2 separate regions of the Homo sapiens genome follow, and region 2 is linked to region 1. The links come from fine-mapping of genetic effects on gene expression. A gene starts in region 1. The other region holds a variant in brackets. All regions are shown on one strand. Distances are from middle to middle. Region 1 holds the start of UGCG (UDP-glucose ceramide glucosyltransferase). Region 2 overlaps SUSD1 (sushi domain containing 1).

Region 1 (16,053 bases):
GAGTGCAGTGGCATGATCTTGGCTCACTGCAACCTCTGCCTACCAGGTTCAAGTGATTCTCCTGCCTCAGCCTCCCAAGTAGCTGGAATTACAGGTACCCACCACCATGCCTGGCTAGATTTTGTATTTTTTGTAGAAACAGGGTTTTACCACGTTGCCTGCCACCACGCCCAGCTAATTTTTCTATTTTTTGTAGAAACAGGGTTTCGCCATGTTGCCCAGGCTGGCTTGAGATCCTCCCACCTTGGCCTCCCACAGTGCTGCAATTACAGGCCTGAGCCACCGCGCCCAGCCGCAAACTGGTATATCTTATTCAGACATTTATAGCATTTCCAATGTTATACACATATTTGTATACATATATAAGTAGAACACCTTTAGTGGAACACTCACTAATTTTTTTTAAGAATTTACTTTTTAGAGTAGTTTTAGGTTCACAGCAAAACTGAGCAGAAAGTACAGAAGGTTCCCATATACCCACTGCCATTCCCTCCACCAGCCTCCTCCACTATTAACATCTTGCACCAGAGCACCATATTCGTTACAACTGATGGACCTACATTAACACACCATTATCACCTAAAGTCCATAGCTTACATTAGGGTTCACTCTTGGTGGTGTATTTTCTACGGGGTTTGCCAAATATATGACATGTATACACTATTATAGGATCATACAGAATAGTTTCACTCACAGCCCTAAAAATCCTGTCATCTATTTGTCCCTCTTTCCTCTGCTCCATGGCAACCACAGATCTTTATACTGTCTTCATACTCTTCCCTTTTCTAAAGCTGTTTTAAAACGAAGTTTGGGTAAACATAGTTTAACTAGGGTCAAGTATAATATAACTGATCTTTAATCTACTGATTATACTCAATTTAGCAAATTTGTTAACTCTTAAGAATATCTACTTTCACATTTCTTTGGCCTCTTTTTTTGTGTTATTGGTCATACTGTATAAAATCCTTTGTTGTAAGGTTCCAGAAAACATTTTTGAAAAAATGCAGAATATAAAACAATGCTTAAATTAAGCAATTGGTGTTCCTCAAATCTAAGAGGGCATTTAATGATAAGATGCAGCATTATTTTATATATCACTAAGATGCACTATTATTTTATATTTGAGTAAAAGAAAACCACAAGCCATTGGCTGGGCACGGTGACTCACGCCTGTAATCCCAGCACTTTGGGAGGCCGAGGCAGGTGGATCACGAGGTCAGGAGTTCGAGACTAGCCTGAACAATATGGTGAAACCCCGTCTCTACTAAAAACACAAAAATTAGCCGGGTGTGGTGGTGTGCAAATGTAGTCCCAGCTACTGGGGAGGGTGAGACAGGAGAATTGCTTGAACTCAGGAGGCGGAGGTTCCTGTGAGCCTAGATCACGCCACTGCACTCCAGCCTTGGCGACAGAGCGAGACTCCACCTCAAAAAAAAAAAAAAAAAAAAGAAAAAACGCCAATTAACTCTAAGATGGCATTGACTGTGAGATGCATTCCCATTTCAGAGAAATTAAAATTTGTTAAAGTGTTTTTTTGAAGTGTGCCTTAGAATTAACTACAATCGTAAATTTTTGTTTGGAACGTTATTTCGATGTTAGAATTCTATTCCACTTTTTTTTAAGACAGGGACTCACTGTCACCCAGGCTGGAGTTAAGTGGCGCGATCACAGCTCACTGCAGCCGCCACTTCCCAGGATCAGGTGATCCTACCACCTCAGCCTTCCCGGTAGCTGGGACTATAGGTGCCATAACCATGCCTGGCTAATTTTTTTTTTTTTTTTTTTTTGTAGAGACAGGGTTTCATCATGTTGCCCAGGCTGGTCTCAAACTCCTGGCCTCAAGCAATCCTCCTACCTGAGTCTCCCAAACTGCTGGGATTACAGGCATGAGCCACTGCGCCTGGCCCTCCATCCTGCTATTTTTATCAGCCAGTAACTCTCAACAGTGGGAATTTGATTTTGAAGCATTGTTCTTTCCCACTGATTCTGCACCAGTGGAGCCAAGGATGTTAATCGAGGAATGGTTCGGACATTAACTCTTCTAGTTGTAGTTTGTCATTTAATTGCAGATTGAGGTAGATCATTCAGTGACTATTAACTACCATAAACAGCAATAATAAACAACTTCTTTTCTTTTTTTTAAATTCATCTATTTTTTTTCGAGACAGAGTCTCGCTCTGTCGCCCAGGCTGGAGTGCAGTGGCGCGATCTCGGCTCACTGCAACCTCCGCCCCTCCAGGTTTAAGCAATTCTCTGCCTCAGCCTCCGGAGTAGCTGGGATTACAGGCGCCTGCCACCACGCCCGGCTAATTCTTTGTATTTTTAGTAGAGACGGGGTTTCACCATCTAGGCCAGGCCGGTCTTGAACTCCTGACCTCATGCTCCACCTGCCTCCGCCTCCCAAAGTGCTGGGACTACAGGTGTGAGCCACCGCGCCCAGCCACAACTTCTTTTCAAAATTGAATTCAATTCTGAAATATCTCAAGGGAGGTCATGGATTATTTAAAAGGAAATCACTTGCAACAATAAACATAAAACAATGCAGAAATAGTATAAACTCATCTAGATTGAAGAAACACAAACATTGAGTACTAGCATCTTCTTGGGATGACTTAAAATTAGGACAAATACTTAGTTACCTTACTACCCAAAGTGACATTTCTTCCCATTTTAGAGCTGTGCTGTCCACACGTACAATTAAAATTTTCTAGTAGCTAGCCAAAGTATTTAAAAAGAGAAATTAACTTAATAATTTACCTAATTTAATGTAGTATGTCCAAAATATTACCTTTTCAACATGCAATCAATATAAAATTTACTAACGAGATGGTCTTCCACATCTGGTGTACTGTTTACTCCACAGAGTGGCAAGCTGCCTTTCCAACCCTCACTTAGCCACATGCGGCTACCGTATTGGATGGCAGTCTTAGGGAATTTCAATATCAACTGATTCTTTAATTCTGAATTTGAGAATTTCTTTTTATAATACACACGGTCGCTAAGGCGCTTAGAGATCTGTGAGGCGCATGGAGATTATTTTACTCTCCGGTCCCTTTTGATCCAAGATCCCACAGCATTAAAAGCAGTAAGAGGGAAGGCAATGGGCATCCCTTGCGCCCAGGAACGTGGCCTGGAGGGCCTGGCTGCTCCGAGCAGTAGCAGTGCCCGGCGGGGAGGCTGCAGACGCGGCGTTGGAAGTTGGATTTCTAGACAAGCTCCGGCAGCTGCCCGGAACCCGTGTCTTTTTCTGGGGCACCCAGGAACAGCAGGGCCAGACGGAGAGAGAGCAGCCTCCAGCCAGGCACAGGGTCCCGAGCTGCCACCGACACCGAGGGAGCCCGGCCCAGGGCTGCAGCGCTTTCCGCCTAGGTGGGCGGCAGCGGGAGCGAGGAGCCGGAGGAAGCCCGGCCTGCGTCCTGCGGGCAGCAGGACACGATCTCCCCGGCGCGCTCTCGCCGGCGCCGCAGCGGGCGCGCGGGCGACAGGGTGGGCGTGGACCGATGGGGGCACCGCCCCTGGGAGAGGCGGGCGCCGCGGTTCCGGGGGCGGGACGCGCCGAGGAGTGGGGCGCGAGCCGCCGGTTTTGATTAGTGCGCGGAGCTGCGGCGGTGGAGCTGCTCGGCCGGGAGCCCGGCGGCGAGACGGAGAGGCGGCGGAGGTGCCCGCGCGCAGGGTCTGGTGGGCGGCCGCGAGGCTCGGGAGAGGCGAACCGGAGCGCGGGACCGCGGTCGCCCCGACCAGAGCCGGGAGACCGCAGCACCCGCAGCCGCCCGCGAGCGCGCCGAAGACAGCGCGCAGGCGAGAGCGCGCGGGCGGGGGCGCGCAGGCCCTGCCCGCCCCTTCCGTCCCCACCCCCCTCCGCCCTTTCCTCTCCCCACCTTCCTCTCGCCTCCCGCGCCCCCGCACCGGGCGCCCACCCTGTCCTCCTCCTGCGGGAGCGTTGTCCGTGTTGGCGGCCGCAGCGGGCCGGGCCGGTCCGGCGGGCCGGGGGATGGCGCTGCTGGACCTGGCCTTGGAGGGAATGGCCGTCTTCGGGTTCGTCCTCTTCTTGGTGCTGTGGCTGATGCATTTCATGGCTATCATCTACACGTGAGTGAGGGACCGCAGGAGGGGCTCGGGGCAGGGGTCCGGGCCTCGGAGACAGGCGAGAATGGGAAACGTTTGCGCTTTGAAGGGGACTGGGCTCGGGCGGGGGTGGAGAAAGCTGATCGTCAGGCTGTTCCCCCCGTTCCCTCGCCCCTCGGACCGGCGGTGGCGGTGGTCTTTGCGAGGGAAAAGTGTTGGGCGTGGGAAGGGTTTGCTGGGTTGCAGGCGACTGCCCAGCCAGGCTAAAGGAGACTGCTCTTACGTGTCAGGCTGAAGGTGGTGGCTTGGTTTGATTGTGCTGGGGATTCGTGTAATTTTTCATCTGGGCCGAGATGTATGGTGTATTGTTTTTTTCTCCCGACCTGGGCCACGTTTCTGTTAGGGTGGTGATTGTGTCCACTTTTCTGGGAGCTGCTCACAGCTATCTGGACACCTCTCTGTGGATTTTCTTCTTCCTGGAAGGGCTCTATGCGCTTAGATAGGTGTGAAGCACCTGTCCACCCTGAAAAATGTCCACCAAACCTCCGAGCTGGCATGATAGCTTTGAGTCCTGTCAGCTTGTACATCTCAGCGTGGTTTTCTTTCCTTTTTTCAGTTCCTCGTTTTATTGTTTTATGTAGATTTGTACTCTCCCCGTGCCGGCCACATCTTTTCATTTTTGTTTAACAAATACTTCTTGAGGCCTACTAGATACCATTCACTGTTATTGGCCAGGGGACATGGTGGTGAGCAGGACAGAATTCCTGTCCTCATGAGTCTTACATTCTAGAAGGAAGGAGCAGATAAAATCTAAATAAGGTTATGAGATTGTGACGAAGCGTGTAAGTAAAATAGAACTGGGTGATGGCGTGAATAGAGACATGGGTTATGTGGCTAGTTTGGTATATCCACTGTTTAAGGTGAAATCTGCCTCTGTAAAGAAATGAAAAAATTATATAGAGCACATTACTGATATCGATTCACTTGGATTTTTAGTCTGGGGGGAGAAAAGAGCAATTGTATATAGTAATCGTTACCATGAACTAGAATAGAGTGTATGTTAGTGGAAGAGACTTTAAGAAATTAGTTACTTTTAGTTTTTTGGTTTTTTTTTTTTCCTTTTTACTGCGGAAAAAGTGTGCCTTTGCTTTTGGAAACACTGTATTTTATTAGTATAGTGTGGCATTTCCTGGTACTGAGAAAGATGATGCTGGTACAGGTTATACTGATATTTCTTTGAAAGTGAAAGAAAACATGCCACTTGGATATTGTTGACTTTAGTTTTTGGAGTTGGTGAGCTTAGTCACAGCACATTCTGGAGTTCATTTAAAATATGTGAGTTCTTTTTCTTTAAAAAAATTGTTACTTTTTACCGTCATAAAAATAAAAAATGCTTACTGTGTAAGGAATTTATGCAATAGAGAGAGATGGAGAAAATTAAAATATGCACACACCAAAACTACATTACCTTGTTAACCTTTTGTGACTATCCTTCCAATCTGTGTGTGTGTGTGAGAGAGAGAGAAGGAGGGAGGGGAAGAGGGAAGAGAGAAAAGGACTATATTATGATTATTGTTCTGTAACCTGCTTTAAAGTTCATCTGTTTAATAAATGTTTATTGAAAAGCCGTTTTGTGCAAGGCACTGTTCTAGTTGCTGGAAGAGTGAAGAACAAACATACAAGGCCCCTGTTCACATGGAACTGTCCTGTAAAATGTCTTGACCGTTTTTTGCATGTCAATATCTGTATGATCTCTACATCATTTGTAATAGATGCATGATATTTTAGTTTACCAGGTACCAAGATTTATTTATTATTACTGATGGATGTTTAGGTTGTTTCCAATTTATCTAGATTACAAAGAACACTGTGATGAATTTATATGCATACATCTTTGAGAAATGATCTCATTTATATTTCCGAAAGAGGAATTATTGGGCCAGAAGTGGTGCACATTTTAAACTTTGATACATATTGGCCCCATGGAAATGTTATGTATATTCACAGTCCTGGTAACATTGTATGATGGCCCCATTTTGCCTTACAAACACTAAGTAGCAGGCATTTCACTGTTTTCTGTTTCTATTTTCATTCCTTTAAAGTTACATTGAGCACTTTTAAAATATGTTTATATGCTAGTTACATTTAGATGTAAATTACATACTCATAATCCTTTGCCTGTGCTGCAATCTGTTGCTGAATTCATCTTTCTGATATAAAGGTTGTTTTCTGTCACATGTAGCATTCTTTTCCCCAGTCTGTTTTTTGTCTTTTAACTTTGTACATATATTTGACATGGAGAAAAGTGTGTGTGCATGTGTGTTTTAGGTAGATAGGTCTTTCCGTTTCTTTTACATTTTCTAACTCTGTTATAATTTTTATATCTTCCTTATTCCTCCAAATTATTATATATGTTAGTCTCTGCTTCCTCTTAGTATTTTTTTCTTAATTTTTTCACATATTACCCTGAATTCACCCAGTATTTTACTTCGTTATATGAGAGCTAGAGCCCTAATTATAGTTTCTTCTAAATATTTAGAGACTTGTCCAGAATTACTTATCAGATGATTATTTGATTATTCCACTGTTTTGAAATATTTTTATTATAAACTAAATTCTGCTTTATACTTGGGTATGTTTCAAAGCTTCTATTGCCCTTTCTTAACCTATTTTAGATGGCAGATGTTTGTAGGATTTCTGCCAACAATGTCAAAGGTAACATTCAGATTAGAGACATTTCAAATTCAAGAGTCTTATTGTTGAGATTGAAGATTTCCTAAAAATAACTAAAGAGTATAGCCTTGGCAAGTTAAATAGCCTTTATGGGTTAATTTTTTTTTTTTTTTTTAATGGTAAGTGCTAGTGTGGCTTGATAGGTTGGGGCCTAAGGTGAAATTGTATAAAAGCCTAGACCTGATGGTAGTGTTTCTCTTCTAGCCCTTGGGAGCCACGTTGCTGCGTGATGAAGTGATCTAAGCAGAAACCTTGCTTCATGCTCTCTTCCCTATCCCATCCACCTCATATTATTATTATTTCCCTGTGTACATAAGGTCCTAATGTTTATCATCAGGCTTTATCTTTCGACTGGAGGTGCTAGGCTAGTGTGGAAATAATTTATGTGTCCTTAAATATTAGCTACCCTCAAGTAAAACAGAGGTCCTTTTTTACCTGGAGGTGTATATGTATATGTGTGTGTGTGTGTGTGTGTGTATTCTTTCTTTGATACAGGGTCTTGCTCTGTTGCTTAGGCTGGAGTGCAATGGCACGATCTTGGCTGACTGCAACCACCGCATCCCAGGCTGAAATGATTCTCCTGCTTCAGCTTCCTAAGTAGCTCCCAAGTAGCTGGGACTACAGGCATGCCTGGCTAATTTTTGTGCTTTTTGTAGAGACAGGGTTCTGCCATGTTTCCCAGGCTGGTCTTGAACTCCTGGACTTAAGTGATCTACCTGTCTTGGCTCCCAAAGTGCTGGGATTACAGGTGTGAGCCATCATGCCTGGCCCCCTGGAGATTTTTTAAGTTTTTTTTAAAGTTAATTCTGCTTTCTACAAACGTATTTCCTTTATTTTGTTTATTGTTATTTTTTTGAGACAGTCCTCTCTGTTGCCCAGGCTGGAATGCAGTGGCTCGATCACGGCTTCACATCCCAGGCTCGAGCAATTCTCCCACCTCAGCCTCCCAAGTAGCTGGGACTACCGGTGCATGCCATCACGCCCAGCTAATTTTTGTCACCCAGGCTGGTCTCAAACTCCTGGGCTCAAGTGATCCCCCCACCTTGGCCTCCTGAAGTTCTGGGATTACGGGCGTGAGCCACTGCGCCCAACCCAAATATGCTATCTCTAATGTACAGCAACTTCAATACCTGATGCACAGTTTTTGAATGGAATTTGCATACTCATTGTGTCAGGATAACTGCGATAAACTACCCGTCAAAAACTGGTTATGTTTTTCATGTAAATTTTAGCATTTGGGATATTATTTTTAGTTAGTACGATCTTTGCCTTAAATTCATGAATACTTGGTGTTCCAAGCCTTAGTGGAATGTAAATTGAGAACGTCTTTTTTGGGTTTAGTCCTGCCAATGCCCTTGGACTGTGGTCAAACGTTCATCAGTCAGGATCATTGCTACAGGGCTACTTTCAGGGAAATGAATAAGGCAGTCCAGCAATTCAGCCCCTTTAACCTGAGCCTGGGAAGATACGGAATTAGACTATAGTGTGATAGCTTTAAAGAACAAAGTGAGGGGCAGTGTGGGGAGGGAGAGCATCAAGAAGAATAGTTAATAGATACTGGGCTTAATACCTCGGTGATGGGATGACCTGGGCAGCAAACCACCATGGCACATGTTTACCTACGTAACAAACCTGCACATCCTGCACATGTACCCCTGAACTTAAAAGTTGAAGAAAAGAAAAAGAGCAAAGTGGAAATTGCAAGATTTTAGTATTCAGTGATGGTTCTATTGATTCATTATCCCTGCCTTTCTCTCTGACATTAGTTAGTTCAGCACACCTTCATATCTATCCTAGATGTTGAAGCTATGTCTACTCGCTGGTATCTCTAGCTGCAGCCTTGTGCCCCCTCGATTTTATATTTCTTATTGTAGCCTTTATCCTTCTGGATTACTAATCTTGGATCACAGTAGCTTAAAATCTTACCATGAATCCTCATTGCCTCCGGGTTACAGTTCAAACTCCTTAATGAGACAAGCACAGCTCTGTAGGAGCTGAACCAGCAACGTTGTATTACTGGCATTTCCCCAAATGTACAATGTGCTTTCTTTGGAATTGTCTTTACTTTCTTTCTTTTTTCTTTCTCTTCCTTCTTTCCTTCCAAAAATCTTGCTTAATTAACTCCTACTCGTTCAAGTCATTTTAGACTTTAGTTCCTTATTGGGTTAGGTGCCCCTTATGGCACCCAGCCATCTCCTATTTGTTTTCTATGGTGGTGGAATCTTCTACATTCTATAGTGTAGTAAGCCCATTGTCCAGTGGGCAGAGTTTGTGTTTTCCTATAGAGCTAACTCACTATTGGTTATTTTACCTTCTGTGAGAGAATTTGTGTTAGCAAGGTTAAGCTTGCACAAGAAGGTGTGCTTTATATTGCTTATGAAGCCCATTTTGAAGCAATACCATTTTTGAAATAAGTGATACAGGTAGTAAATTGGTCATGATATACTGATTATAAACAAACAGTAATATAGTCATGAGTGATAACAATAACAAAGGTCATTAGTCACTGGAAATTGCTGGCATGGACTATGTGAAGTTAGGGACTTGCTGATATAGCAGTGAACCTAATTTTACACGAAATACTAACAAGCTTTGTGACTTGGAGCAGGGAAGATAAATTCCTAGAGTCAGATAAATTGGTTCAGCAGAACCACACAGCGGAATTATAAAAACAACACATTCTGGGGTTGTTAAGCAAGGTGAACTTTTGCCCTTGTGGAATTCATATTCTTCCTTAGAAACCTAGAGTGAAATTCTCTCTTTTTTTTTTTTTGAGACAGAGTCTCATTCTGTTGCCCAGGCTGGATGGCAGTGGTGCGATCTCGGCTTACTGCAACCTCCGCCTTCTGGGTTTGAGTGATTCTTGTGCCTCAGCCTCCCAAGCAGCTGAGACTACAAGCACGTGCCACCACACCCCGCTAATTTTTGTACTTTCAGTAGAGGTGGGGTTTCATGATGTTGGCCAGTCTGGTCTTGAACTCCTGGCCTCAAGTGATTCCCCCATCTCAGCCCAGCAAAGTGCTGGGATTACAGGCATGAGCCACTGTACCCAGCCGAGTGAAATTCTTGTGCCTCACTTGTGAGGAGCTGTATTAAGGTTGCTGCAGAGGCTGCTTCCCGCCATCTGAAGGGGAAGGAGCCCACCCTCCTTGTTTAACCTTTACCTGTCTCCAGTGGGTTTCCCTGCATCCCAGGCTTCCCTCTTGCAAAAGCCAAATTTGAAAACAGAACTGTAAAAGAAGTTATTTAAAAATGAGACAGACAGGGCGTGGTGGCTCACGCCTGTAATCCCAGCACTTTGGGAGGCCGAGGCAGGCAGATCACCTGAGGTCAGGAGTTCAAGACCAGCCTGACCAACGTGGCAAAACCCCATCTCTACTAAAAATACAAAAATTAGCTGGGTGTGGTGGCAGGCGCCTGTAATCCCAGCTACTTGGGAGGCAGAGACAGGAGAATCGCTTGAACCCAGGAGGTGGGGCTTGCAGTGAGCCAAGATTGTGCCACTGCACTCCAGTGTGGGTGACAGAGCAAGACTCTGCCTCAGAAAAAAAAGAAAAATGTTCCCACCTTGGCTTTTTTTCTTTTCTTTTTGAGATAGGGTCTCGCTCTGTTACCCAGGCTGGAGTGCAGTAGTGCGATCATGGCTCACCACAGCCTTGACCTCCCAGGCTCAAGCAGTCCTCCTACCTCAGCCTCCTGGGTAGCTGGGACTACAGGCACATGCCACCACGCCTGGCTGATTTTTGTGTTTTTTGTAGAGACGGGGTTCCGCCGTGTTGGCTAGGCTGGTCTCGAACTCCTGAGCTCAAACAATCTGCCTGCCTCGGCCTCCACAGGTGCTGGGATTATAGGCCTTTCCATTCTTCAGTCACCCAGTCTTTCTAGACCTGTGGTTGTCAAGTTTGACTGCACTATGGAGTCACATCAAGGGCTTAAAAAAAAGAAACAACTGCTGCCTGGGTCTCACCCCTACAGACATGGTTAAATTGGTTCAGGCATCAGTATTTTCAAAACTCCATAGGTGACATGGATGTGCAGCCTAGGCTGAGAATGATTGCCCCAGGCTGTCTGCCCACAGTTGTGTCCAGCACCTGCCACCTCTTGGCTTCATTTAATTCTCCATTTAGCCTAGAGCCCACAGTTCATCACTTCATTATCTTGCCTCTTGCCTCACCTCGTATCAGTCTGCCCTGTTATCTTGAATCCATCCAATAATTATAGCTGCTCAACTTTGAAAATCCTACAGAGGGTAATCACACAGCCATGTGGACTAATACTACTACACATTGGTAGTCTCAGGGCTCAGCTAAACCTGCATTGCGGTGCTGCCTGGCAGTGCTTTTTTTTCTGTGTTTAGCTCTGACATCCATCACTTAAAAAAACCTCTTCTAAATCTTCATTCTACCGCATTCTTGGTAGATGACCTTAGCTCCTACTTCATACTGTGGATCCCATCATGCCTTAAATTAGTTTTTTCTTTTTCTCTCTTTGCCCTTCGGCTAGCTCTTCTTGAATTTTTAAAGAATTTCAAGTAGTCTTTAAAAAATTGAACTAGAGGCTGGGCTTGGTGGCTCACACCTGTAATCCCAGCACTTTGGGAGGCCGAGGCAGGTGGATCACCTGAGGTCAGGAGTTTGAGACCAGCCTGGCCAACATGGGGAAACACCATCTCTACTAAAAATACAAAAAATTAGCCGGGTGTGGTGGTGCTCGCCTGTAATCCCAGCTACTCCGGAGGCTGAGGCAGGAGAATCACTTGAACTCGGGAGGTGGAGGTTACAGTGAGCCAAGGTTGTGCCATTGCTCTCCAGCCTGGGCAACAAGAGCAAAACTTTGTCTTGGAGGAAAAAAAATTCAACTAGAGAGCCAAGGCGGGGAGGATCGCCTGAGGCCAGGAGTTCAAAACCAGCCTGAGCAATATAGCAAGACCCCATCGCCACAGAAAAATTTTAAAAAATTAGCCAGAGGCAGTGGTATGCAGTGAGCTATGATTGCCACTGCACTCCAACCTGGGTGACAGAGCAAGATTGTATCTCAAAAAAAACTAGAAAAATTAAACTAGAAGCCGTCTGTTCCACCCTTTGGCCCTTTCACTCACTGTCAGGTTTCAGTAGAAACTAGTGTTTGTTTACTGTTATCACATTTCAACTCCCATTCATTTACTTTTTAACCGATTTTTAGCTGTCTACCCTTATCCTCCATGAACTGCCCCAATTCTTGCCAAAAGTGCTCAGAGATAGCAGCAAGTACATATGTAATCTACTGGACATTACCATTCTTACCTTGGTCTCTCCAGCAGCATTCAGTGTTATTCTTTCTTGAACCCTTTGAGAAAGAAAACAGCCTGGCCAGATAAACCCTTCTGTCACTTTACTTGCATCCTGGCTGTCTTTCTGCTTCTTTGATCCCCACTTTTAGTCTCCTTCATGCATTACTCTTTTTTTTTTTTTGAGAGGGAGTTTCGATCTTGTCATCCAGGCTGGAGTGCAGTGGCACAATCTTGGCTCACTGCAACCTCTGCTTCCCAGGTTCAAGCAGTTCTTCTGCCTCAGCCTCCCAAGTTGCTGGGATTACAGGCGCACCACCGTGCCCGGCTAATTTTTGTATTTTTAGTAGAGACGGGGTTTCACCATATTGGTTGGGCTGGTCTCGAACTCCTGACCTCAGGTGATCCACCCGCCTCAGCCTCCCAAAGTGCTGGGATTACAGGCATGAGCCACTGAGCCCGGCCTCTCCTTCATGCATTACTGATTCAATAATAATATATTCCTTCTTGGCCATCTTCTAAGAATGCTGTGCCTCAGAGAGCTTGTGTATTTACCTTACGGTGGATGGCTTCTGTATTTTTATCTCTAGGCTAACCTTACCTGCTGAGCTCTCTGTATCTGTTTATTTATTTACTCTTCATTTATTCAAAATTATTTTTAAAAATTGAGAACATACTGTGTATTATTGCTTTGCTGGGCTCTGGAGAATTTATATTCTACTGTAGTGTTTCTCCAGTTGTAGTTTACTGCCAGCCTGCATCATTTGGTATGCTTGTGAAAAATGCAGATTCCTAGTCTCTTCATCTGGTTTATTCACTTGTGATCTCTACCTGTGGGCATTATTTATACTACAAGTTGCAAACCTCTGGTCTCCTAGATGAGATGTCACCACTTGATGTCTTGAGAGTAAATTAAAGTTCGTATGTTCAAAAGTTCATTACTCTTTCCCATCTCTCATTGTGCCCAGATTTTATGAATGGCACCACTAGTTACCATAGCCTGACCCAGGTATACCCCTCATTATCCCTCATTCCCCCTCCAGCAATACCATCATCAGTTATTGGCTAAACTCCTTGATTCTGAGTTCTCACCTTCTCTTGACTTTGCTTCCTTCGCTTGTTTCTTTTGTGTGTGTGTTTTGTTTTGTTTTGTTTTGTTTTGAGACAGTCTCGCTGTGTCGCCCAAGCTGGAGTTCAGTGGTACGGACTCGGCTCACCACAACCTCTGCCTCCTGGGTTCAAGTGATTCTCCTGCCTCAGCCTCCCGACTAGCTGGGATTACAGGTGTGCGCCACCATGCCTGGCTAATTTTTGTATTTTTAGTAGAGACGGGGTTTCACCATGTTGGCCAGGCTGGTCTTGAACTCCCAACCTCAGGTGATCCACCTGCCTCAGCCTCCCAAATTGGCTGGGATTACAGGCATGAGCCACTGCACCCAGCCTTTCACTTGTTTCTTATGCCTTTCTGGTTTGTGTGCTTGTCTCTTTCTTTTGGACCTTTGCAATATTTTTCCCTTGCCTTCCATCTCCCCTGCCTGTACTTTATTCTCTTAACTTCTATAAATACAAAAATGATCCTGGTTGCTTCCTTTTAGTCTTTCATGGTTATTTCTTGCCTAGAGGATGAGCTCCAGGCCTTTTCAGCCTTGTCTGTGAAGTCACGAAGAATTTATAGCAGAGATGAGTCTTAAAGCAGTGCTGCTCAAGCTTGAGTGTGCCTGTGAATCACCTAGAGATCTTGTTAAACTGAAGATTGAGTTTCAGTAGTTTTGGGGGATGAGGCCTGAAATTTTGAAGCTCTGAAAAGCTCCCAGGTGTTGCCAATGCTGCTGGTCCATGGGCCACACTTGGAGTATGAAAGTCTGGAAAGACCGCCTCCTAGGAGTAGTTGGATGCTTCCATCTCTCTTCTCTCAAAGTGTTCCAAACATACTTTGATGATAGCCTGTATCACACTGCATTTGCAGAGTCCCGTACAGACTCTACTTCTGAATGAGAGGTGGCGTGTGCACATGTGAGAACCACCTCTCCTATTAACACATGGAAATGCTGTAACGATTAGACACTTACACACCCAGAGCCTGAAAATGTGAAAAGAAAATCTGCATATTCCAGAAACCAAGAGGGAATGCAAAGCAGTGGGTTGGTCTGGTCTGCTAATTTGAATCCCGGTGGGGTTTTAATTTATTGATATTTCTTCTCATTGGTATATTTTCCTGATTCTTTGCATGCTTGGAAATTTTTTAATAGATACCAGACATTTTGAATTTCACCGTGTTGGGTGCTGGATGTTTTTGTTTTTCTGGACTGTTGACTCCAGCTCTTCAATTCATTTTCTTTCTTTTTTTTTTTTTTGAGATGGAATCTTGCTCTGTTGCCCAGGCTGGAGTGCAGTGGTGCGATCTTGGCTCACTGCAACCTCCGCCTCCCGGATTCAAGTGATTCTCCTGCCTCAGCCTCCCGAGTAGCTGGGATTACAGGCACGTGAGGCCACACCTGGCTAATTATTTTTTGTATTTTTAGAAGAGATAGGGTTTCACCATGTTGGCCAGGCTGGTCTCGAACTCCTGACCTCAAATTATCCTCCCGCCTTGGCCTCCCAAAGTGCTGGGATTACAGGCGTGAGCCACCGCACCCAGCCTACCTTATTTTCTGTGTCATAGGAATCACTGTCTTCCTTTGCTTGATGTCCAGTATCTTCAAAACTGTTGTCTCCTGTATTTTTTTCTGATTTTTTGGTTGTTTCAGGTGGGAGAGAGTAAATCCAGTTAGCGTTTCTTCATCTTGTCCAAAAGTTGAAGGCTTGGGGGGTGGGTGGTGGGAAGAGTAGGGCTTTTAGTACTAGTGCGAGGACAGAGTCAGTGCTGCACACTAGTTATAATAACCTCAAACTGTAAACAACCCAAACATCCATCAACAGAAAGTAAATAAAGTGTGGTATATTAGTAAAACTATCCTGTAACAAGAGTGAATACATGATAGCTAAATGTAACAACGCGGATGATTCTCACAAACATAACGCAACCCAAAGAGGCCAGACAGGAAAGATACATCCTATGGGATTCCATTTATATAAAAATTTAAAGCCAGCAAAACTAGTCTGAAGTCAGGACAGTGAGTACCCTTGAGGGGAGCATAGTACGTGGAAGGAGACACGAGAGGACTTCTGGGGTTCTGCTAATACTGTTTTTTGATCTGGGTACTGGTTACATGAGAGTTTCACTTTGAGAAAATTCTTTGAGCTGTGTACTTACAGGTGACTTTATAATATGTACATTATGTATCAATAAAAAGTACCCCCCACACCACTTCCCCAACAAAAAGGTCAAGGCTGCAAGCCAGATGCATTATAGGAAGGTAAGAACTGGATTCCCAGTATAGAACCTAGAAAGCAAGTCGTCTGCCCTAGGCTGAGGGTAGAAATGGACACCCATGAGAAAGCTTGTGCAACGTGTAGGAATCATAGGCTCAAGTTCATACTGTCTAGGAAATGCAGAAACCCTGATCTGAGACACTAAAAGAAAAACTAGTTAGAAACCAGTAAAACTTGTAAGACCCTGTCCGAGCCACTTATAATACTGCCCCACTTTAAGGGCTCCACCGTGGAGGCCACTTTTGAAACACTAGGCAATTGATCACAGTGCCCTCCCTCCCTCTCTCCCTCTCTGTCACCCAGGCTGGAGTGCAGTGGTGCGATCTCGGCTCACTGCAACCTCTGCCTCCCAGGTTCAAGTCATTCTTGTGTCTCAGCTTCCCGAGTAGCTGGAATTATAGGCGTGTGCCACCACGCCCAGCTAATTTTTCTATTTTTAGTAGAGATGGGGGTTTTGCCATGTTGGCCAGGCTGGTCTTGAACTCCTGACCTCAAGTGATCCGCCTGCCTCATCTTCCCAAAGTGCTAGAATTATAAGCATGAGCCACTGCACCAGCCCACAAGGCTACTTCTGACCTTGGAAACTCTTCTTTATTTTGAAAAAAACCACTGGGATT
Region 2 (16,053 bases), 170 kb after region 1:
TTGGCTTTTCTTTTGCATTATGTCATTATTTGACATAAATATCACATTTGTTCTTGCAAATGCTCTCAGGAAGTGACATCACAACTTCTGTTCTCTTTATAATGACAGAATTACAATGCCTTCTGGTAACTTGTCAAGAATCAGAACAATTTATACAATGTCCATCCCTGGAAAGATCTTTGCACATTTACTGAACTTAAATGAATATAAAAGCAGGAAAACCCTAAGTTTTATTATAAATGGATATACAGATAATATCGCCAGACTTTCTTTTTTGTAATTTTATAATATCTCACTTTTTTTTTTTTAACCTTGATTTTACCGAAGGGTCAGCAGAGACAAAGGCAATGTTGGTGAGGCCATGTACATTTTCATCTCCTTGAGCTGGTACTGTGAGCAAGCTGTTCATCTCTCCACGCCAACCTCAATCTTCCTCTCTAAAAAAGGGACTGATGCTACTTTCCTAATCCTGCCATGACCTTTGCAAATAAAACACTTAACTGAACACACTGTAGTCCTCCAACTGAGGTAAATTAATTCCATCCTAATGCCATCTGGAATCCCAGAAGCAGTCATTAATTATACAGTGTCTTGCCTGTAACTCAATACATGAAAAGACAAAAAGATTTACCTAAATGATCTTTTCAGAAACCACTGCACACCCCCCAAGATCAACCTTACATAAAGGGCAACATATTCTGCCTTTGGGAAATGAAACGATGCCCCTGACCCACCATCCATAAAGGATGTACTATGAGACATGAGTGCAAAGGACAATCCTGACATGTCCTAACATGCAACCGACGTTTACCCAGGGACCAAAGGAATGGATGTAATTTCTTGAGCTAAACTGCCCAAATGCTTGTATATAGGGTCCTTTAGAAGTCTCTCTATGTGGCCGGGTGTGGTGGTTCAAGCCTGTAATCCTAGCACTTTGGGAGGTTGAGGCTGGTGGATCACCTGAGGTCAGGAGTTCAAGACCAGCCTGACCAACATGGCAAAACCTCGTCTCAACTAAAAATACAAAAATTAGCCAGGTGTGGTGGTGCACACCTATAATCCCAGCTACTCAGGAGGCAGTGGAAGGAGAATCACTTGCACCCAGCAGGTGGAGGTTGCAGTGAGCTGAGATCGCAACACTGTACTCCGGCCTGTATGATGGGAGTGACACTCCATCTCAAAAAAATAAAAAATAAAATTTAAATTTTAAAAAAAAGAAGTCTCTCTCACCATTAGAAAGGATGCTGGTTGGGATTAAAGGCCAGTCTGTACCCAAGGAAACAAAAGAGGCCCCAACTGCATTGTTCTAACCACCCAAGTGCAGCCACCAACACAGAAGTCTTCTCCTCACCAAAATCAAAGTTTCCAAAACACTCCATGGGGATCACTGGGCAACCGTGGAGAAAGGACAGCTACTGACCTGATTGGTCCATTTTTCTCCTTGGCTTTCCTCAGTCTGAGGCGTGGTAGAGGTCCTCTGTGCACCGTAAAAAATTCTACTTCCGGGAGGGGAGGCTCTGAAAACATGTTGAAAAGAAGAAAAGGGGTATGATTGGAACAAGTAAACAGCAGGACAAAAGAGGTCCTCGTGAGGGCTATCAAAAAGAAAGTTTTAATTTCAGAAGCGAGGAGCCTATTCTGTACATGCCACAATGTGGAAGAACATGCTAAGTGAAATACACCAGGCACAAAAGGACAGATTCTCTATCATTCCACTTAGATGAAAAATCTAACATAGGCAAATTCATAGAGACAGAAGAAGTTGCTGGGGGTGGAGGGGGCATGTAGGGAATGGGAACATATTGCTTAATGGTCACAGAGGTTCTCCTTGGGGTGATGAAAAAATTTTGGAAATACACAGTGGTGAGGGTTGCACAACATGCCAATAAACTGTGTGCTTCAAGATGTTAAAATGGCACATTTTATGTGATGTGTATTTTGCCACAATAAAAAGAAGTGATGAGTATATCATGGCACTGGCAGAGGATAGATGTGGTGAGTATTACAGTTTGCTTGGTGGGTAGATTCCTACTTGGTAGGGAAGACCACCACATCAGCCTTCAATATCCTTTATAATCACAGAGCTCTCTGTCCTTATTTTCCCGCCCCCAGCAACAAGATTTCCCAAATAGGTTTTCCATCCGGAGGAAACTACACTGACTGGCTGACACCAGCGTTCTTGCTCACTGGTAGTTACAGTCATGGTATAAATGTGCTAACTGCCATTCTGCCTTGTGGGTAACACGCTAAGTAAGACATACTGGGCACTAACCATTCACACTAGAGATGTTCTACATATGCCCCATCTTACTTAATCTTCTCAACAGGGCTACCAAGTGGATGATGTTTATAGAAGCAATCATTTGCTTCCTCTCTTGGGGTTCCTACCCATGCAATGTAGGAACTTCTTCCCTCTCCAAAGTATTAGGAAAAGAGCTTCCACCTGGCCTTCTATCCATCCCTGTGATTTGTGAAACAGCTAGTTCCCATGTAGCCCCATCCTTATTTTTTTATTTTTCTTTCTTTTTTTGGGGGGGGGGCGGGTGGGGGCTGCCTGAATGCAGGACAGGTGATTTCCCACCTCCCAGTCCTACTGTCCATCTCTAGGCAAACCTGAGTCACCTGCCTGAAGCCTGGTCTACATTTGCCCTATAGCCGGGGTTCCCAACCCCAGGTGGTGGGCCAGTACCAGTCTGTGGCCTGTTAGGAACCAGGCCACACAGCAGGAGGTGAGCAGCAGGTGGACAAGCATTCCTGCCTGAGCTCCACCTCCTGTCAGATCAGTGGCAGCATTAGATTCTCATAAGAGCATGAACCCTATTGTGAACTGTGCATACAAGGGATCTAGATTGTGCACTCCTTATGAGAATCTAATGCCTGATGATCTGAGGTGGAACAATTTTATCCCGAAACCATCCCCCTACCCACCCCAGTCCGTTGGAAAACTGTCTCTGATGAAACCAGTCCCTGGCACCAACAAGGCTGGGGACCACTGCATTATAGCTTCCACTTCCCCATAGGTGGGGCACAAAGTGTAGGCGTGGGAGGAAGTTCAAGAAGCTTCATTTTGGCCGGGTGCGGGGGTGCGGTGGCTCACGCCTGTAATCCCAGCACTTTGGAAGGCCAAGGCAGGCGGATCACCGGAGGCCAGGAGTTTGAGACCAGCCTGGCCAACATGGTGAGACTCTGTCTCTACTAAAGATGCAAAAATTAGCCAGGCGTGGTGGCGGGCACCTGTAATCCCAGCTACTCAGGAGGCAGAGGCAGGAGAATCGCTTGAACCGGGCAGGCAGAGGTTGCAGTGAGCCAAGATCATGCCACTGCACTCCAGCCTGGGTGACAGAGTGAGACTCTGTCTCAGAAAAAAAAAAAAAAAAAGAAGCCTCAGACCCAAACCAGTTTTACCAGCAATAAAACTGATTACTTTGATCCCTTTCTAACGCTTATGTATCTTCTTCAATTTCCCTAATCTCAGAGGTGGAACAAGTACAGTTATTATCTCAGAAAAACTCATTTTATAGATGAGGAAATTGATACATGACAGATTGTTACTTGTCCAAAGGCCACACGATTAGCAAGTCGTAGAGTCAGAATGTGAACTCACGCTCTGCTTACACACCCCTCTCATTCACCTTGGGGTATCTTAAACATTTGGTTCTACCAATTGATCTGGCAAATTTTCATCCCCTTTGAGTGAACTAACAAACTCTACTTTAAAAACACCGGCCAGGGACAGTGGCTCATGCCTGTAATCCCAGCACTTTGGGAGGCAGAGGTGGGCGGATCACTTGAGGTCAGGAGTTTGAGACTAGCCTGGGCAACATGGTGAAATCCCATCTCTAGTAAAAAAATACAAAAATTAGCCAGGCATGGTGGCACACCTCTGTAATCCCAGCTACTCAGGAGTCTGAGGCAGGTGAATTGCTTGAAGCTGGGAGGCAGAGGTTGCAGTGAGCCGAGATTGTGCCACTGCACTCCAGCCTGGGCGAAAAAGTGAGACTCTGTCTCAAAAAGTAAAAATAAAAACACTGAATCCCCAAAGATTTTACAAACACATCAGCTCCAATAAAATGATCCACTTGCCACAATTACTGCAGAGTTAGAGGTCTACCCAGTGTGGCTCACATCAGAGAAGCTAGACTACAGTTAAACTGCAGAAATAATACGATGTAGTGGGTAGGAACACAGGACTTGGGTTGCTATCCTGGTTCTATCACTTATACCTCCAGCAGCCTCATCTGTTAAATAGGGGTAGAAACAACCTCTACCTGTTAGGCCTGTTGAGGGAATTAATGAGCCAATTCATAATGATTAACAATAATAGTTAATGAGTCAACACAAGTAAAGAGAATAAAACAGTGCCTGGAACACAGCAGCCGTCAGCGCCTGTTGGCACCTGTATGATATCACTTGAGCTACTAGTTGCCAATTCTATGCTAGGAACTTTGCCTCTGCTGTTTCAACAAATACTCACAGCAGCTCTGCGTGACAATCATCTCTATCTTATCAGTGAGGAAATCAAGGCTCAGGCAGGCCGAGTCACACCACTAGAAGACGGCCGGCCGAGCCAAGTGTGGAACTCAGTAATTTGACTCCAAAGTCTCCTTCGCTACATTGCCAGGCCATGACAATGCTTGCGTTCACTTTACCTGAGATTAAACCATGACCTAGAAGTAGAAACCTGGAATTACAAATCCCTGAGGAATGAGAGACCTCTGTGCCTGAGACCGTAAGGAACAGAGCTTGGGGGTCCTGGGGTGTCAAACACCAAGGATCTCTTAATTAGCAAGTTCAAAGGGAAGGGATGAATAGAAAAGAAAAAACTCAGAAATGACCCCAGGAGGGAGACCATAGGGACAGGTTTAGCTCCTTCCCAGCTTGAGTACACAGGAAATGTCATTCAGGGAACTGTGACTTGTAATATAGAAAGAGGGTTCCTTACAGCACAGAGAGTGGCAACAGAAGCCAGGCGAAATAGGCAGTGTTCCTAAGTCAGGTCTGGAGTGGCATTCTGCTGAATGAACGGGGCTTGAAAGAAAACAAACCTGGAAGAGACCATGGAAAGCTGCAACCCTGTAATCGCGAAACTCCCAAAGATGGGACACCTTGTGCCTGAGATTCTCCGAGTCCGTACGTGTTGTCTTTTCATATGTTACATACTTTATATGTAAGTGCTCAGCATCCCTTTTTCTGTGGAGAGCGGCCCTTCTCCTTCCCATATGGTTCTTATGGGGCCAGCATTCCCAGTACTCCAAATCCCCACTGGCCCAGGGCCCAGTGATTATGGATTGCCATTCCCCAGTCAGAAGATGGCTCAAAAAGAGCAATCTGTTTAGGAGATTGGAGGTTTTATTTTTTGTTGTTTATCTGTTTTTTTGAGATGGAGTCTCACTCTGTCACCCAGGCTGGAGTACAGTGGCATGATCTTGGCTCACTGCAATCTCTGCCTCCCAGGTTCAAGCTCTTCTTCTACCTCAGCCTCCCGAGTAGCTGGGACTACAAGGCATACACCACCATGCACAGCTAATTTTTGTATTTTTAGTAGAGATGGGGTTTCACCATGTTGGCCAGGCTGGTCTCAACACTCCTCACCTCAGGTGATCCGCCCACCTCTGCCTCCCAAAGTGCTGGGATTACAGGCGTGAGCCACCACACCAGGCCTAGAAGATTGGAGGGTTTTATTCTTCTTCTTAGATTGTAGCTGTAAGTACCAGGTAGGCCAATAGTACAATGTCCATCCTCCCAGGTCTGGCTGGAAGAATTTGGCAGAAAGAGGGCCTCATGGCTGGAAGAGCAACGGGCCTGTGGTGACACCACGTGTGACTGAAGCTTGCTGTCTCCAAACAAGATCCATCCTGGGCCTTCCCAGTTCTGTGATCCCACAGATTCCACATGCTTAAGCTGGTTGGAGTTGGGTTTCTGTCACTTGCAACCAAAAGAGCCCTGACTATAGAATGCATCCAGCGCCTTGGTATTCTGTGGAAAGGCAGAACCCTCAGCTGTGTACTGGCAGGAACTCTGGTGCTAGGCCAAGTGAACACGGTAGGGAAGTGGTCCTTATGCATTTGTGCAAGAAGAATTGCTGTGAATTCCAGGCAAATGCTAAACCCCTTGGGTGGTGGAGACAGTGAGGACAGCAGGAAGAACTGCCTTAAGAATCCCCTTTAGACCCTGGACTAAACCACCCCTCCTTCAAAGTCTATCACTGCATCAGCTCAGTAGGGCAAGGGAGGAAGGGCATGATGGAAGGAAAGAGAAAGAGCTATTAAAAACATATGTATGAATGCCTCCCCCCCAATCCCCCCACCCTAGCCCTAAACCCTGCCACTGTGAACTGAAGGACTCTGAGGCCAAAATAGATTCTCAAGACTGTATTTACCAGATTAGAAAATAGCTTTGGGGTAGAAACCCTCAATCTCAAATTATAATAAATAAAAACTTAGACCTGCCTGGACCTTTACAGTTGTTAAAGCACTACTATATATATTATTCATATATCTGCATTCAACAAACACCCATTAGCCACCTCTGCCGCAGGCTCTGTGCTAGGCTGGGGGAGACAAGCACAGAAGACATGCTTTCTGCTTTCTGGGAGCTTGGAGTGTAATCATGGAGACAGTTTTGTAAAGGTAGTGCCCAGAGCTGTGATGGAGTTATATACAGAGCACTGTGGATGTGAGGAGGAACATCTAACTGAAGGCAGGGAGCTGAGCCTATCAAACACGGAAATAGACATCTGCAGAGGCATGAGGTGGTGGCAGGGAGGGATAGAACTACATGGAGTTCCTGGCTGAAAGGTTGAGGTCTGGCAGAGTAGAAGTAGGTGGTCAAGTTAGAGGGGTAGGTGTGGGTCAGATCTGAGAGATCTGAGGTTCCAGAAGTAATAAGAAGCCATTGAAAGATTTTTAGCAGGCTGGGTGCACTGGCTCATGCCTGTAATCCCAGCACTTGAGGCAAGCAGGTTGTTTGAGGCCAAGAGTTCAAGACCAGCTTGGGCAACATGGTGAAACCTTGTCTCTACAAAAAATGTTTTAAATTAGTCAGGCACAGTGGTGTACACCTGTGATCCCAGCTACTCATGAGGCCAAGGTGGGAGGATTGCTTGAGCCCGGGAGGCAGAGGTTGCAGTGAGCCAAGATTGCACCACTGCACTCCAGCCTGGGCAACAGCTAGACCCTGTCTCAAAAAAAAAAAAAAAAAATATTTTTAGCCGTTCTGCACTTCAAAAATACAACTTAGAGAGCTGATCAAAGGATGAATAGAAAAAGGGCAAAAATACAGGTTGTCCAATAATCCAGGTCGGAAGTGCTCGAGGTCTGCTGCAAGTGAGAGCACTGAGAATGGAGAAGAGGGAACAAACGGAAACCTTGCTCAGGGGAGAGACGGCAGGAATCTGGCAACCAAGTCAGCAGTGATGTCATTTACCAAGTCTGGGGGAAGACGAGAAGCAGCTCACTTCTAGGTCTGTTCAGGTTGAAGTGTATAAGGAATCCTCCAGCAGGCAGTTAGAAACATAGGTCTGGAGCCTAGGAGCAAACCCCATGGTGGAGATACAGAGGCAGCTCACAGGGAGGAGTGAACGTGGCCACCAGGGAGCCAGTATCAAAGTATGTGAGGAGAGATGGGGGCCAAGGGCGGACCACCGAGAAACCCAGGCTCTAAGACCAGGTGGAAGAGTAAGAGAACTCTGTGGCCTTTATGAAACAGTGTTAGGTCTAGAATTTCTCCCAGAGTCTCTTAGACACTGCAATATAGATCATGTTTTTCCTAAACCTGCGGCATTGCCAGGTGTCCCAGGAGGTCACCTGGAAAAGCCTCTGCTTAGAGTCTAGGCCTCACATCACTCATTTGTTGAAATGAAGGTCTATGCTATTTTCAAGAGCAGTCCAGAGAGAGATTCTGTAGGATACAGCTGAGAAGACAACAGCTGGATTCCTGTGGCAGTGATGGAGGAGAGAGGAAAAGCCCACACATGTCCCCTGGGAACGTACCCCTTCCCCTTTGAGATCGAACTGCCCTCAGGCCCTTTGCTATCACCGAAATGCCCTTTCACTTGTGACGTTTTGTTGTCACAGTAAAATTAACTTTTTTTATTACGTGTCTCCTCTTCTCAGCCAAGGTGGAGATTAACTGGTCACTCTTTTCTGTGTGAGAACTCCGCCCCACCCCACCCCGCCCCGCCCCCACCAGCTCTTTACTCCAAGAGTAATAATTCTAGTTCCTCTAATCTC[T/G]TGGCTAACATTTTAAAACCACACAGGAGAAGCAGAACAAAGTACTCACTGAGCTCAGAAGAGGCAACTGCAGACCGAGCAGGAAGGCCATCCCCCTGCTTGGTCCAGGTGATGTCACTCTTTCCCAATCTAGAGTCACAGTTTTCAAGGCACCACAGTCATCTGGTTCAATCAACATGTGACTTTGAGACCATTTTCTGCTCTGTTTGCCTAAGGTCTCCCTGCCCTATATTTTATTTTATTTGTTTTTGTTTTTGTTTTTGCTTTTGCTTTTTGAGATGGAGTTTCGCTCTTGTCGCCCAGGCTGGAGTGCAATGGTGTGATCTCAGCTCACTGCAGCCTCCGCCTCCCGGGCTCAAGCAATTCTCCTGCCACAGCCTCCCGAGTAGCTGGGATTACAGGCATGCACCACCACACACGGCTGATTTTTGTATTTTTAGTAGAGACGGGGTTTCTCCATGTTGGCCAGGCTGGTCCCGAACTCCTGACCCCAGGTGATTCCACCTGCCTCGGCCTCCCAAAGTGCTGGCATTACAGGCATGAGCCACCACGCCCAGCCGCTGCCTTATATTTTAAACAGTCTACTTTTTCTCTCCAATGTACAAGCCTAAGCCTCGTCAGGCTGGTTCTCAGCCACATTTCGAGGTGGAACAAACTTGACTTTCAGCTGAATTTTCCAAGGTGCTCTTCCTTGTCTCCCAAACTGATGTCCTGGGTAGACCTGCTCTCCTTTCCATCAACCTCGTTACTGATTTAAACTGATTTAGACCCAAGGCAAGAAATGGGTCCTGCCTGTGCTGGAAAATATAGCTCTTTCACCTTGGGTGTGTGAGATGGGAGAGGAACCAGAACAGAGACCTTCATTACCATCCTCGGATGTCAGGAATATCCCTCCTCTGCTAGAAGCAAATGGCAAAAGAAATCCTCACATGGAGGGAAATGTGGGGAAAAGTAATGAAGGAGAATTTGCTCTGCAAAAAAAAATATTAAATGTATCATAAAATTACAGCAATTGAAATAGTAAAGTACACGCACAGGACAGACAAACAGTGAAAAAAAGCTAGACAGTCTGGAAAGAGACCCAAAGAAATGCACCAGGTGGCATGGATGGTCAGTAGTTCCAAAGGTGATAGGGAACTGGCTTACAGCTGGGGAGAAAAATTACAATGTAAATTTAGCCTCATATCAGACATCAAAATAAATTCCAAATGAACCTAAGTGGTTTTGTTTTGGTTTTGTTTGTTTGTTTGTTGTAGAAAAGTGGTCTCACTGTGTCGCCCAGGCTGGGGTGCACTGGCATGATCATAGTTCACTGCAGCTTTGAACTCCTGGACTCAAGCAGTCCTCTCTCCTCAGCCTCCTAGAGCGCTGGAATTATAGGAATGTGCCACTGTGCCCAGCCTGAAACTAAATTTTAAGTGCAAAAAAGTAGGTCAGGTGCAGTGGCTCCCACCTATAATCCTGGCTTTTTGGGAGGCCTAGGCAAAAATGATTGCTTGGGCTCAGGAGTTTGAGACCAGCCTGGGCAACATAGTAAGACCTCATCTTTACAAAAAGAAAAAATTAGCAGGGTGTGGTGACATGCACCTGTAGTCTCAGCTACTTGGGAGGCTGAGGCAGGAGGACTGCTTGAGCCCAGGAGTTTGAGGCTGCAGTAAGCTATGATTGTGCCACAGCACTCCAGCCAGGGCAACATAATGAAACTCAGTCTCAAAAAAAATTGAAAAGAAAACAAAAGAGTAAATAGCCTTGGAGTAGGAATTTGTAATATTTATCAAAATATTAATATCACTAATGAAGGTAAACTATTAAATCAACCAAAGAAAAAGGGTAGTATAAGTACAAATGTGTTAAAATGTCTCTATGTAAAACCCATCAAAATGAACAAAAAGAACCAAAAATGGAAGAAAATTTTATCTGCATCAAAACTAAGCAACGTCTCCAACTTTGTACTGCAAACTTCAAGTAAACACAAACAATTGAATTAAAACACAACTCCACCGCCCAAAAACCCAGTACAATGCTACTTTTCTGGATTTTCTATAATAAAAAGTAGGTAGAAAAATAAACACAGCATGATGGTTCTTTTCTAATCCTCAGGCACCTCTCCAGATATATCATCCCATCCAAGGCATGGTAAATTAAAATTGAAGGCAACAGAAAAAATAGTGTCTTCCACTACAAGTCATCAGCTAGATATATCTTCTCCATCAATAAAGTTATGAGACTTCACCTCCCAAGGAGAAGAAACCAATTTCTTTTCACATGTACATCCTCAGTAGGCAGCACAGGTCTTTGTACATAACCAATCGAAAAATATTTGCTAGTGACTTCTCAAGACATCTCCTTTTATTATTTATTTATTTTTATTCTTTTTTATTTCTTTCTTTCTCTTTTTTTTTTTTTTTTGTTTTTTTTTTTGAGACGGAGTCTCACTCTGTTGTCTAGGCTGGACTGCAGTGGCACAATCTCAGCTCACTGCAACTCTGCCTCCCGGGTTCAGGAGATTCTCCTGCCTCAGCCTCCCAGGTAGGTGGGATTACAAGCACCCACACCACACCCAGCTAATTTTTGTATTTTTAGTAGAGACTGGGTTTCACCATGTTGGCCAGGCTGGTCTCGAACTCACCCACCTCAGCTTCCAAAAGTGCTGGGATGGGATTACAGGCATGAGCCACCGTGCCTGGCCAACCCATCTCATTTTTAACAAATACAAGTAAATAAATAAATATTTGCTAAATTAAATTGTTACAGCTCAGCAAGCCCCTCCCCCTCTCCCAACACACACAGAAACCCTAGTTTCCAGGCTTCTGATCTAAGAATACCTTCTCATGCACGTTTTATAAAAGCTAACTTTGGCTGAGATTCAGATGCTGGTAGCAAGAGGGTCTGGGAGACACCCATCCCCACACAGCCATTTACTTGGGGGCTTGGGGTTTGTTTTGAAGCTAGAAAGCAGTTGGGAGATTTCTGGGAATGAGAGAAATACGTGGACTGTGGAAGCATGGAAGGGCAAACATGCCTCTCCTAGCGTGACCTAATGTTAGGGCTCCAGATATCAAAAGAGCCTGTGTCCACGGAAGACTTGGAAAGGAAAACAGCTGGCATGAAGGCCAGTCCCTCTGCTGACCTGTGGTACAGCTTCAGCCCCCTTGGAGCCAGGGGGGCCCCCAGGGATAAGTGTGGTACCTTGGAACCAGCCAGGGGAGATGGGTTTCTCACTGAGGACACAGGGGTACAGCATCCTTGGATGGTTTGTGGGTAACCAACCATGAAAGAGAAGCCTCGGTAAAAGAAACCAAGAGACCTAGTCCTGCACAGTCTTCCCTGAGGACATCCCATTGTGGAGGGCGGTGTCAGAGGCAGGGGCAGGGAGGATCAGGGCAGTCCTGGCTGGACCTCTCTGATAAAGTGACAATCTGATAAATGCCTGGGACACTCCTGTGTTTTCTGTTGTTTTCCTAACCGTCTGAAAAAGTACTTTCCTTTTTCTTGTTATGAATACAATGAGAGATGGGAAATTTCTTGAAGAAGTTGCCAGCCTTGGTACTGAAGACATGGGAATAAATAATTTCCTTTTCATCTTTTCTTCCCTTTGCTCCTCCAGCATGCTTGGTTCCATAATAAACATTCCATCTCAAATGATCACCATGTTGTGTAAGACAAGTGGTCTGGTTTATCTCCACATTTACGTATGTATTGGCTTTCTCACGCTCACTCTCTCTCTCTCTCTTTCTCTCTCTTCCCCACCCCGCCCCCACCCACCCCCATCCTCCTCTCTCTGGTTTCCTCTTTCTCTCTCTATATAAGAAAATGTTGCCTACAAAGCTTTTAGACTTAGCAAGAAAATAGCATACTCAGCTGGACAGTGGCTCATGCCTGTAATCCCAGCACTTTGAGAGGCTAAGGGCAGGCAGATCACTTGAGGTCAGGAGTTTGAGACCAGCCTGGACAACATGGCAAAACCTCATCTCTACTAAAAATATATTTTTAAAATTAGACGGGGCTGGTGATGTGTGCCTGTAATTCCCGCTACTTGGGAGGTCGGGGCATGAGAATCGCTTGAACCTGGGAGGCAGAGGTTGCAGTGAGTCGAGATCACACCACTGCGTAAGCAACAGAGCAAGCCTGGGCAACAGAGCAAGACTGTCTCAAAAAAAGAAAGGGAAAGGGAAAGGAAGGGAAGGAGGCCAGTGCAGTGGCTCACACCTGTGATCCCAGCACTTTGGGAGGCCGAAGTGGGCGGATCACTTAAGGCCAGGAGTTCAAGATCAGCCTGGCCAACATGGTGAAACCCCATCTCTACTAAACATATAAAATTAGCCAAGCGTGGTGGCACACACCTGTAATCCCAGCTACTTGGGAGGCTGAGACATAAGAATCACTTGAACTCAGGAGGTGGAGGTTGCAGTGAGCTCAGATCACGCCACTGCACTCCAGCCTGGGTGACAGAGCGAAATTCTGTCTCAAAACAAAAAAAAAGAAAAAGAAAATAGCACACTCAACATGTGGATGCTCTTCTGACTCTTTGGGGCCTGCATCAAGGATGAAAGTTTGTTCCTCACCCTGTCCTAAAGGGGATGCGTGCCGTGGGGCTATCCTGAAGAATTCAGTTCAATGTGCCGTCTGCAGCCTATCAGCCAAGAGTCAGAAACACCGTGAGGCCACAGCTCCATCTCACCCACCCCCTCGCCAGCCCCTGCTTTCCTGCATTCACCGAAACACTTGCCTCTGTCCCTCAACATTCCTAGAACCTTCACTGTCCTCTGAGGTCAGCGATGTATTTAAAGCACTTGTTTTCATCCTGTTCCCATCAGTAAGATTTAACGTAAGACACTCAGAAGGGAAATTCCACTCTCTTTCCTTCTGGGAAATGAGCAGCTACATTGTCCAGACCCAAATCCTTAGCCTAACACATCTGCCAAAATTCAAAAGTTCATGATTTTACCGAAATAAGGCCACACACTTCTTAGGAAACCACGAGTATCTCTGCACATCAACACATAAGCTTCTCTTTTTTCCTCCTTTTATAAAAGAAAGGGGTTGGTTTTTTTTTTTTTTTAACTCTTTCATAAGATCAAAGCAACTTGATTTTTTTATGCTTCTTTAAAATTACGAGTCCTTTAAAGTGGGTAGAGTTGGAAAATAGGCATCTCAATGAACATTAAACAGCTCAACAATGTCCCCTGGTGGCCATGAGCACAGAGAGAGGGAACTTGAGCCACTAAAGCTCTATTCAGCCTACCAAACAAGGAGTAAGTGTCTCATCAAGATGAAACCCCCTCCCCTTTACTCAAAAAAATATGCAACGGTCCTTCAAACCAGAAAAGCACAGCATCCAAATATGAGAAAGACCACAGAGTAGGAAATGGAGATGGAGTCGCTATTCATTTTAATAAGTCACCACAGAAAGAAATGCCCAGACTGAACACCACTTGTCTCTCCAGCCCAAAATGTGGGGAATTCTTTCTGGTAGCCAGAATTCATTGCCTAACCAGACATCTCCTCAACACCAATACCACCCACTGGCTGTTATTTTAAAATTTTGGGCTGTTATGCTATCTATCAGTACCATTCTTACCCACTGAGGGTTGAATGTAAAACATACAGACAAAAATCACTGTCTTCAGGAAGCTCCTATTTTAGTGGGAGAGAAAGAAAATAAAAAAAAAATAAGTTTTTAGAAAACAAGCTCTAGGCTGGGCACAGAGACTCATGCCTATAATCTCAGCACTTTGGGAGGTGAGATGGGAGGATCACTTGAGGCCAGAAGTTCAAGACCAGCCTAGGCAACATAGGGAGACCCTCATCTCTACAAAAAATAAAAACAAAAAAATCCCTTTTGTAATTAGCCAGGCATGGTGGTGAGCGCCTATAGTCCCAGCTACTCAGCAGGCTGAGGCAGAAGGATTGCTACAGCCCAGGGGCTCAAGGCTGCAGTGAGTTATGATTGCACCACTGCACTCCAGCCTGGGTGACAGAGTGAGACCCTATCTCTAAAAACTAATAATTAATATTTTTTATTAATATGAAGCTCTATGAAGAAATTGAAGCAGGGTAAGTAGATACAGAGTACTAGCGTGGAGGCTGGTGATGGCAGTTGAGCAGGCACCTGAACAACTATGGAGAAGCCATATGTTGACAGTGTCCCAGGAAGTGTGAACTGCAGATGGAAAAGTCTGGAGGCTGGAAAAACTTTGACCCATTGAAGGAACTGCAAGAAGGCCAGGGAGACAGCTGATGCTTAATGGGAAAGGAGGAGAGCAGGGGGAGATGAATTAGAAGTAGGCAGGGGCCAGATGACATGTCCTATGATGAGGAACTTGGATTCCATTCTAACTTTAATGGAAACTCACTGGAGAGTTTTGAGCTGGTGCTGACATGTTCCCAAATGCATTTTTAAAAGATCACTCTGAGTGCTGAGTGATCTTTTGAAAGTTATGGTGAAGACTAAGACTAAGGTCCAGGGTGGGAGGTATATAGGCAAGAGAAAACCAGTTTGAAAACTACAGCAGGAATCCAAGCAAGAGGTGGCTGTCTTGGATTAGGGTAGTTGTGGAAAAGGCACAGGTGGGGAGAAGTGGTGGAATTCAGAATATATTTCAGACAGCAAGCCAACAGGGCTTGTTGACAGATTAGAAATTTGGGGATGGGATAGAACCAATTAGGACTTGTTTTTGGTCTGAACAATTGGGTGAACAGAAATTCCAATAACAGACAGAAAGTAACAGATAGAAACAGAGAAGCCTGGGTGGAAACCGATTTGGGGGCGAGGGCAGAGGTGAGAAATCACAAGTTCCGTTTGATTTGCGTATTAGATGTTCAATAGGACATGTGTAGAAGTTGGGTGGATATAGGAGTCTGGTGCTCAAAGGAGAGGCTGGGACTAGAAATTGATCTTTGGAAATCCTCTGCATATAGGTAATAGTTATAGCCATAAGACTGGTTGAGATCACCTAAGCAGAAAGGGTAGATAATGAAGAAAAGGAGGCTGAAGAGGGGTCATAAAAGTAGATGGAGCTAGCAAAGAAGACTGAGAGGGGACAGCAAGGCAGAAGGAACCAAAACTAAGGGAGAGGGGGTTTCAAGAGGGAGGGAGTGTCAACGCTATCGAAGAAATCAGATAAGAACAAAACTGGCCATTGGATTTGGCAAGACGGAGATCAAACGAAGAGCCTTTCAGTAAAGCAATGAAGACGTATGTTTCCCACGTGGGATGAGTGAAAGTGAGAACAGGAGGTAGGGCTGTGGAGCCTACAGAACAGCCATTTCTTTCAAGGAGTTTTTATAGAAAGGGGCAGAGAGAAGGCAAAGTAGCTGAAGACAAATATGGGCTCAAAGAAGGTCTGCTCATTTTTTCTTTCTTTTCGTTCACAAGGAGGATGTTGCAACATGCTAGGCAATGCTGGGGATAATTCTGTATTGAGGGGAAGTGCTGATCAGGGAAGAAGGGATGGGATCTAAGGCACAAGTTGAGGGGATGGCAGCCTTACACACGAGCAGGGACAGGAAGGGAGGCAGAACAGGATGCAAGGAGGAACGGCAGGGCTGAGCGTGGGAAGTCCTCACCTGACTACTTCTAATTTCTCAGTGAAATAAGAATCAAGAAGCTAATATGCTTAGTATTTGCTCAGAGCATGTGTGAAGTGGGGGTCACAGATGTGAAGAGGGAGGAGAAAATGAGTGGAAAGTGAATTTACTGGGGCCCTATAGCCGGAGGACTACAATCATTGTCCCCTGATAGTAATCTACTTTTTTTTTTTTTTTTTTTTTTTTTTTTTTGAGATGGAGTTTTGCTCTTGTTGCCTAGGCTGGAGTGCGA

What was found.
Region 2: its variant is fine-mapped to the expression of UGCG in whole blood (TOPMed, PIP above 0.99). The same link has a PIP of 0.9 or more in neutrophils.

The regions. Positions count from the first base shown.
Region 1 is chr9:111,893,225-111,909,277 of GRCh38, forward strand. It overlaps UGCG (UDP-glucose ceramide glucosyltransferase), which reads left to right and starts at 3,590. Exons shown (of 9, transcript NM_003358.3): 1 at 3,590-4,089. The coding sequence starts at 3,992. RefSeq lists enhancers at 3,041-3,624, 10,535-10,634 and silencers at 3,245-3,834, 3,945-4,034.
Region 2 is chr9:112,061,517-112,077,569 of GRCh38, forward strand. SUSD1 (sushi domain containing 1) reads right to left here. Exons shown (of 17, transcript NM_022486.5): 13 at 1,421-1,517. Among named protein-coding and RNA genes, the nearest start is that of LINC02977, 29 kb to the left of the region's middle. RefSeq lists enhancers at 12,200-12,369, 15,575-15,674. The variant T/G (reference allele first, on the strand shown) is at 8,232.